2 separate regions of the Homo sapiens genome follow, and region 2 is linked to region 1. Evidence: fine-mapped expression QTL. A gene starts in region 1. The other region holds a variant in brackets. All regions are shown on one strand. Distances are from middle to middle. Region 1 holds the start of GPR179 (G protein-coupled receptor 179). Region 2 overlaps SOCS7 (suppressor of cytokine signaling 7).

The links. PIP is the estimated chance that this variant, and not a neighbour inherited with it, causes the effect.
Region 2: its variant is fine-mapped to the expression of GPR179 in prefrontal cortex (ROSMAP, PIP 0.93).

What each region holds. Positions count from the first base shown.
Region 1 is chr17:38,342,255-38,345,166 of GRCh38, forward strand. GPR179 (G protein-coupled receptor 179) reads right to left here and starts at 1,702. Exons shown (of 11, transcript NM_001004334.4): 1 at 742-1,702. The coding sequence starts at 1,535.
Region 2 is chr17:38,396,462-38,399,373 of GRCh38, forward strand. The region is part of intron 9 of SOCS7 (suppressor of cytokine signaling 7); the gene reads left to right. Among named protein-coding and RNA genes, the nearest start is that of ARHGAP23, 31 kb to the right of the region's middle. The variant C/T (reference allele first, on the strand shown) is at 1,493.

The sequences.
Region 1 (2,912 bases):
ACACCAAGACCTCTCCTGCCTCTTGCACTCCCTTCTCAGGCCTGGGGGCCAAGACCTCTGCCTGTCTATACTGACACATCTTTTTTTTTTTTTTTTGAGACAGAGTTTTGCTCTTGTTGCCCAGGCTGGAGTGCAATGGCGTGATCTCGGGTCACCGCAACGTCTGCCTCTGGGGTTCAGGTTCAAGTGATTCTCCTGCCTCAGCCTCCTGAGTAGCTGGGTTTACAGGTACTCGCTACCACACCCAGCTAATTTTGTATTTTTAGTAGAGATGGGGTTTCTCCATGTTGGTCAGTCTGGTCTTGAACTCCTGACCTCAGGTGATCCACCCGCCTCAGCCTCCCAAAGTGTTGGGATTACAGGCGTGAGCCACTGCACCCAGCTATACTGACATATCTCTACACACATGTGTATACCTGCATATAGATGTATGCTACATATGTATACCTATTTGTATATGCACAGGCTCACAGACATTCCTGCATGTGCTCAAGCACATAAACCCAGATAAATATGGATTGATTTATACACATGTACACTCACACCTGTATGTGTTAACAGATAGTTGCAGATTCCCAGAGCCGACTGTAAGTACACACAGCTGAGTACAAATACCCACATCTGTGTGCCCCCCAGGCATGCACATGTTCGTGCCAAATGGCCCAGGCACAGCTGAGGGGACCTGTACTTCCTTCCCCTACATCCCCACACATGCATCAAATCCTGCACAAACCCACTTACCTGACTTCTGGGCTGAGGTCTGGCTTGAGTCCATAGAAGGTGGCAGAGAGTGTGATCAGCCATCCAGGTCGGAGCCGTCCCTCCTGGCATTCCAGGAAAGGAGGAGACAGCCTCACCTGCTGCGTGTCCCCCACATATCCATCTGCCTGCGGCCACTTGGGGCTGCCGAGGCTCCCTAGGTCATTGGTCAACACTCGCTTCTTCAGGGCAGGGGTGTCCAGGTCCCCAGGAGGGTTCTCCTCCTGCACCCAGTTCCCAGACAAGTCCTGCAGGATGGTTTCCTCCCCAGTCCGGGTGGCCTGCAGGGCCAGCTGTAGGTGGCTGGCCCCTGGTGGAGGGTTAAAGGTCAGCAAAGCCCTGTACACTCTTGGGTCCCCCTCGGCCACGCTGCGGACCAGTGCCTGGTACCATTCCACATCCTCCTCCACACTGGACTCACGGATGTCGTTGGCTTGCAGCAGCATGTTGAGAAAATTGGCGGCCTGGGCAAGGGTGCCCGCTGCCCCCTGTAGGCTTGGGGGGAGCCCTGGCATGGCTCCTGCCCCACGCGCTTCATAGCGCTCACTGCAATTCACCTGTGATAGCTGCTGGGCATCTCCAGAGTAGAGATAAGCGAGGGCGGCCTCGGCCCCCTCTAGGGGCACCTGCATGGGTACAGATCCTGGCTTGACTTGGGAAGACAGAGGGGGCAGAGAGCGGATGGGCCGTGGACCCCCCAGAGCCCAGGCACAGACAAAACAGCAGCCCAGCAGCCCCCACATAGGAGGGGGCATGACCGCTCCCCTGGTGCCCATCCTTGGGGCAGCTCTCAGGACCCTGGGGTCCAGGCTCAGGAGAGCCCAGGCAGAGGCTGGCTGCAGTCTGGGGGCTGTCGGCCTCCACGCCTCCTATGCTGGCGTTCCTTCTTCCTCTCTCCGTCTCCCTCTCACGCTGGTGCCAGCTCGCCTGCTTTTTTCTTCTCTCTAACGTCACCAGCTGGCTTCTGGATGTAGGTATGAGGGCCCTGCCCCCTACTGTCTCAGTGCGGCCCCCTATCTCAAACCTCTTAATCCCAGCACCCCACTCTTTCCTCCCCTCCTATCCAGTATTCAGGCTCCCTCCATCCCCCATCCACATCTGCTCCCGAGGGAGAGAGATGGGAGGGAAGGGGAGACGAAGGCACCAGTTGTGCTCTTTCTCCCTCCCTCCCTCTGCCTGCCCTTTGCTCCATTAGGAGAGATGGGCAAATCCAGGATGGGGCACCATAGCAACCGCAGATGAGCTTGTGCCCCTCTCTCCACCCCTCTGCTCCACTCAGGCTCCTGGCAGCAATTGCAACAGGCACACTAAGGGGCCAAGCTGCATCTCCTGGCAGTCTGCGCTGGCTGCCTGCACCCCCCTGACCCTGTGCTGCTGAGCTGGGATTTGAGAATGGGGATGTTGAGGGCAGGAAAGACAGCCTAATAGTACCGTAATTGGTCTTTGTACAGACTGAGGCAGCTTATAAGGTGCTTTTCATGTGCCTTATCTGAATGAGTCTTCCCCACAGCCATGTATGGTGAATGTTCTTATCCCCATTTCACAGATGCAGACACTGAGACTCACCCAAGGTCACAAAGCAGCTCACTCAGAGACTTACATCCAGAGCTCTGACTCCCCTACATTGCCCATCCAAACCACCACCATCACCGTTACTCAGCCTCAGGGACTATAACAAAGCCTCCTAGCAGAGGCGTCAAGGGACTTCCCTAGAACCACAGTGTTGTTTATGACAGAGCCGCAGCCTCCACCCAGGTGTCCGTCCCTACAACCCAGGCCTCCTTCTGAACCAAAGTCGACAAGCACAGTGGCAATGGTGGCGGGAGAGAGGTGGGCAAGGAGAAGACAGTGAACACAGTTTTGCCTCCATTTCTTACACCTTCATTTTGTCATCCTAAGTTCTACCTTCTTCTTTTTTTTTTTTTTTTTGAGATAGATTCTTTGTCCACCCAGCTGGAGTTGCACCAGCGTGATCTCGGCTCACTGCAACCTCTGCCTCCTGGGTTTAAGCGATTCTCCTGCTTCAGCTTCCTGAGTAGCTGGGACTACAGGCATGTGCCACCATGCTCGGCAAATTTTATTTTATTTTTTTTTTTAAATTTTTTAGTAGAGACGGGGGTTTCACCATGTTGGCCAGGCTGGTCTCGAACTCC
Region 2 (2,912 bases), 54 kb after region 1:
CACTTCAGTGAGACTCCACCATGTCCCACAGCTTGGAATATGGGGATGAGGAAAAACAGCCCACTCTTCTATTTAGCGTTCCATTTGGGCCATTACAAAGTAAATTGTTGAAACTAAGGAATTCATTTATCTACGAGGCTCTTCTCCCATCATTACACAGTTCTACCCATTTATTTTCCCATAAAACATCTTGCAATACTGGTTTGTGCAGATGAATTCCAATTAGTCTTTTAAATTGCACTAAAGTGAACATTGTGGGGCCAAGTTCCTGAGTAGGGAACACAATTGCCAGGGAGCCATGACTTTGGTGGTGGTGGTGACAAGCAAGATTGACTGCCAGTGTGCAGTGACTGCTTTCTTCTGGTGTGGATCCTGGAGTAGATGTACAGTCTCATCATGTCTTCAATTATATGCAAATTGTATGCCTTTGGAAATGACTAAATATCTAATGTCTTGTGTCTAGGTGGATTTCTCTGCATGATGGCTTTGCAGTTGAGATTAGGGTGAGAGGTAGAGCACTAGGGAGGTCCACCTACCTGACTACCCTTGAAGAGTAATTAGGCCATTCAGTTAGAGGACCACGTCTGTGGGTGCAGTGCTGTAGAAGAACCCATATAAACAGGGAGCATGTTCAGAGAAAGGCCTTGTGGCATTGGAGAGCTCAAACTTCATCATATGGGAATAAATGGCCTAGAAAGAAATGTGATTAACCCAGAGCACGGAGGTTTTAGGGAGGGATAGCTGAAAGATGCATTTGATGGGTTTTCCTAAGGAAGAGAGTGATTAACCTCCTCTCTGTGGTTCCAGTGGGGAGCAAGTTCAGCATTACGCTTATTCTTTGCCACAGGCAACAATCCTGATGTCACAGCAAAAAGAGATCCTGAGAGTTCAGTTCAAACCTTTGCCAGTGCATGACTGCTCCCAACACTCAAGACAAGTGGCTCCCTGCCGGCCTGTTCCTGATCATGCCACACCTTTCCCAGTTGAGGCAGGGCCTTTATACCTCTAGGTCCCCTTGCCCAGAATGCTCTGCCCCAAGGCCCTCCCATGTCACAGCAAAAAGAGACATGGATAAGGACCAAAATGAATGTAAGTTACAAGGAACTAGATTTCAGTCCAACTTTACAAGAACCTTTTTAACAGAGAGGTCCAAAACTGGGATGGTTTTCCTCAAGAGCTTCCATTCAGCAGATAGCTGTATATTTGTGTTTATTTGGCACCCAGTATGAATTGAGAATAGAGTGCTGAGCAAAGCAAAGGCCCTGTTTTCACTCAGCTTCCCTTCTCCTAAGGAAAGACAGGCAGCAAACATGAACATAAATGAATGGGCTAATTTCAGGTGACTGTACAGTGTTGTGAGGAAAGTAAAACTGGGTAAAGTTTAGTGATTAGTGGTGGGATACTCCTCAAGTTTAGATGGTCAGGGAGAGACTTGTGAGGAGGTGCCATTTCAGCCGATACCCAAATATCAAGGAGCCAGCCATGGGAGTGC[C/T]TTGGAGCAGAGCATTCTGGGCAAGGGGACCTAGAGGTATAAAGGCCCTGCCTCAGCTGGGAAGGACGTGGCATGATCAGGAACAGGCCAGTGGGTAGCCATTTGTCTTGAGTGTTGGGGGCAGTCATATATTGGCGAAGGTTTGAACTGAACTCCCAGGATCCCTTTTTGCTGTGACATCAGTATTGATGCCTGTGACAAAGAGTAAGCGTAATGCTGAACTTGCTCCTGGTGTAGACCCTAGGAGCCCTGGAAAGGGAGGAAGTAACACTTCCCAAGGGAAAGGTCTTTTTTTTTTTTTTTTTTGAGATGGAGTTTCGCTCTTGTTGCCCGGGCTGGAGTGCAATGGCGTGATCTTGGCTCACTGCAACCTCCATCTCCCGGGTTCAAGCAATTCTCCCACCTCAGCCTCCCAGTGGGAGGCTGGGATTACAGGTGTGCACCACCACGCCTGGCTAATTTTGTATTTTTAGTAGACTGGGTTTCACCACGTTTGTCAGTTGGGTCTCAAACTCCTGACCTCACTCAAGTGATCCACCCACCTTGGCCTCCCAAAGTTCTGGGATTACAGGCATGAGCCACTGTGCCCCATTGGGAAAGGTCTTTAGGGTATGAAATTTGGCCTTTATGACTTCTTGTTGTTCAGGCTGATTTTAATTTGGGAGTTCTGAATGGCCTGCTTGGTCTATGTGTGCTGTTACCTGGGGAATTTCATGCCAGGGGGTTTGGAGTCAGACTATAGAGTAATGGCTAGAACAGTGCCTGTCTCAAGTCGGAAGGTGGAAGCAACAGTGGCCTTTGTGTTTCTGTGTCAACCCTGTCCAGTTGACAGAAGCTGCAGAAATACAGAGCTCTCTGGCCAGGTGTGATGGTTCACGTCTGTAATCCCAGCAGTTTGGGAGGCCAAGGCGGGCTCATCACGAGGTCAGGAGTTTGAGACCAGCCTGGCCAACATGGTGAAACCCTGTCTCTACTAAAAATACAAAATTAGCCAGGCATGGTGGCGCATGCCTGTAATCCCAGCTACTTGGGAGGCTGAGACAGGAGAATCTTGAACCCAGGAAGTGGAGATTGCAGTGAGCCAAGATCATGCCTTTGCACTCCAGCCTGGGTGACAGAGCGAGACTCCGTCTCAAAAAAAAAAAAAAAAAAGAAAGAAAGAAATATAGAGCTCTTTCTTGCCAGGTTCAAAAGGGGTTACTCCAGGGGCTTACTTCCCTTTTCAGTCCCTAGAGCAATTGAGCCTCAGGGAAAAAATGGGTAGGAAATGAAGGGGTAAGGGAAAGGGAAAGAGAGAATTTATGCAATGTGGTAGGATGTATTTATTAGTTATTTCAGGACCTTGTTTTGTCATCCAAGTCATAGGCTGCTCAGGTCCCCCTGACAAAGGCCACTGCTGCATCCCTAGTCACATGTGGCC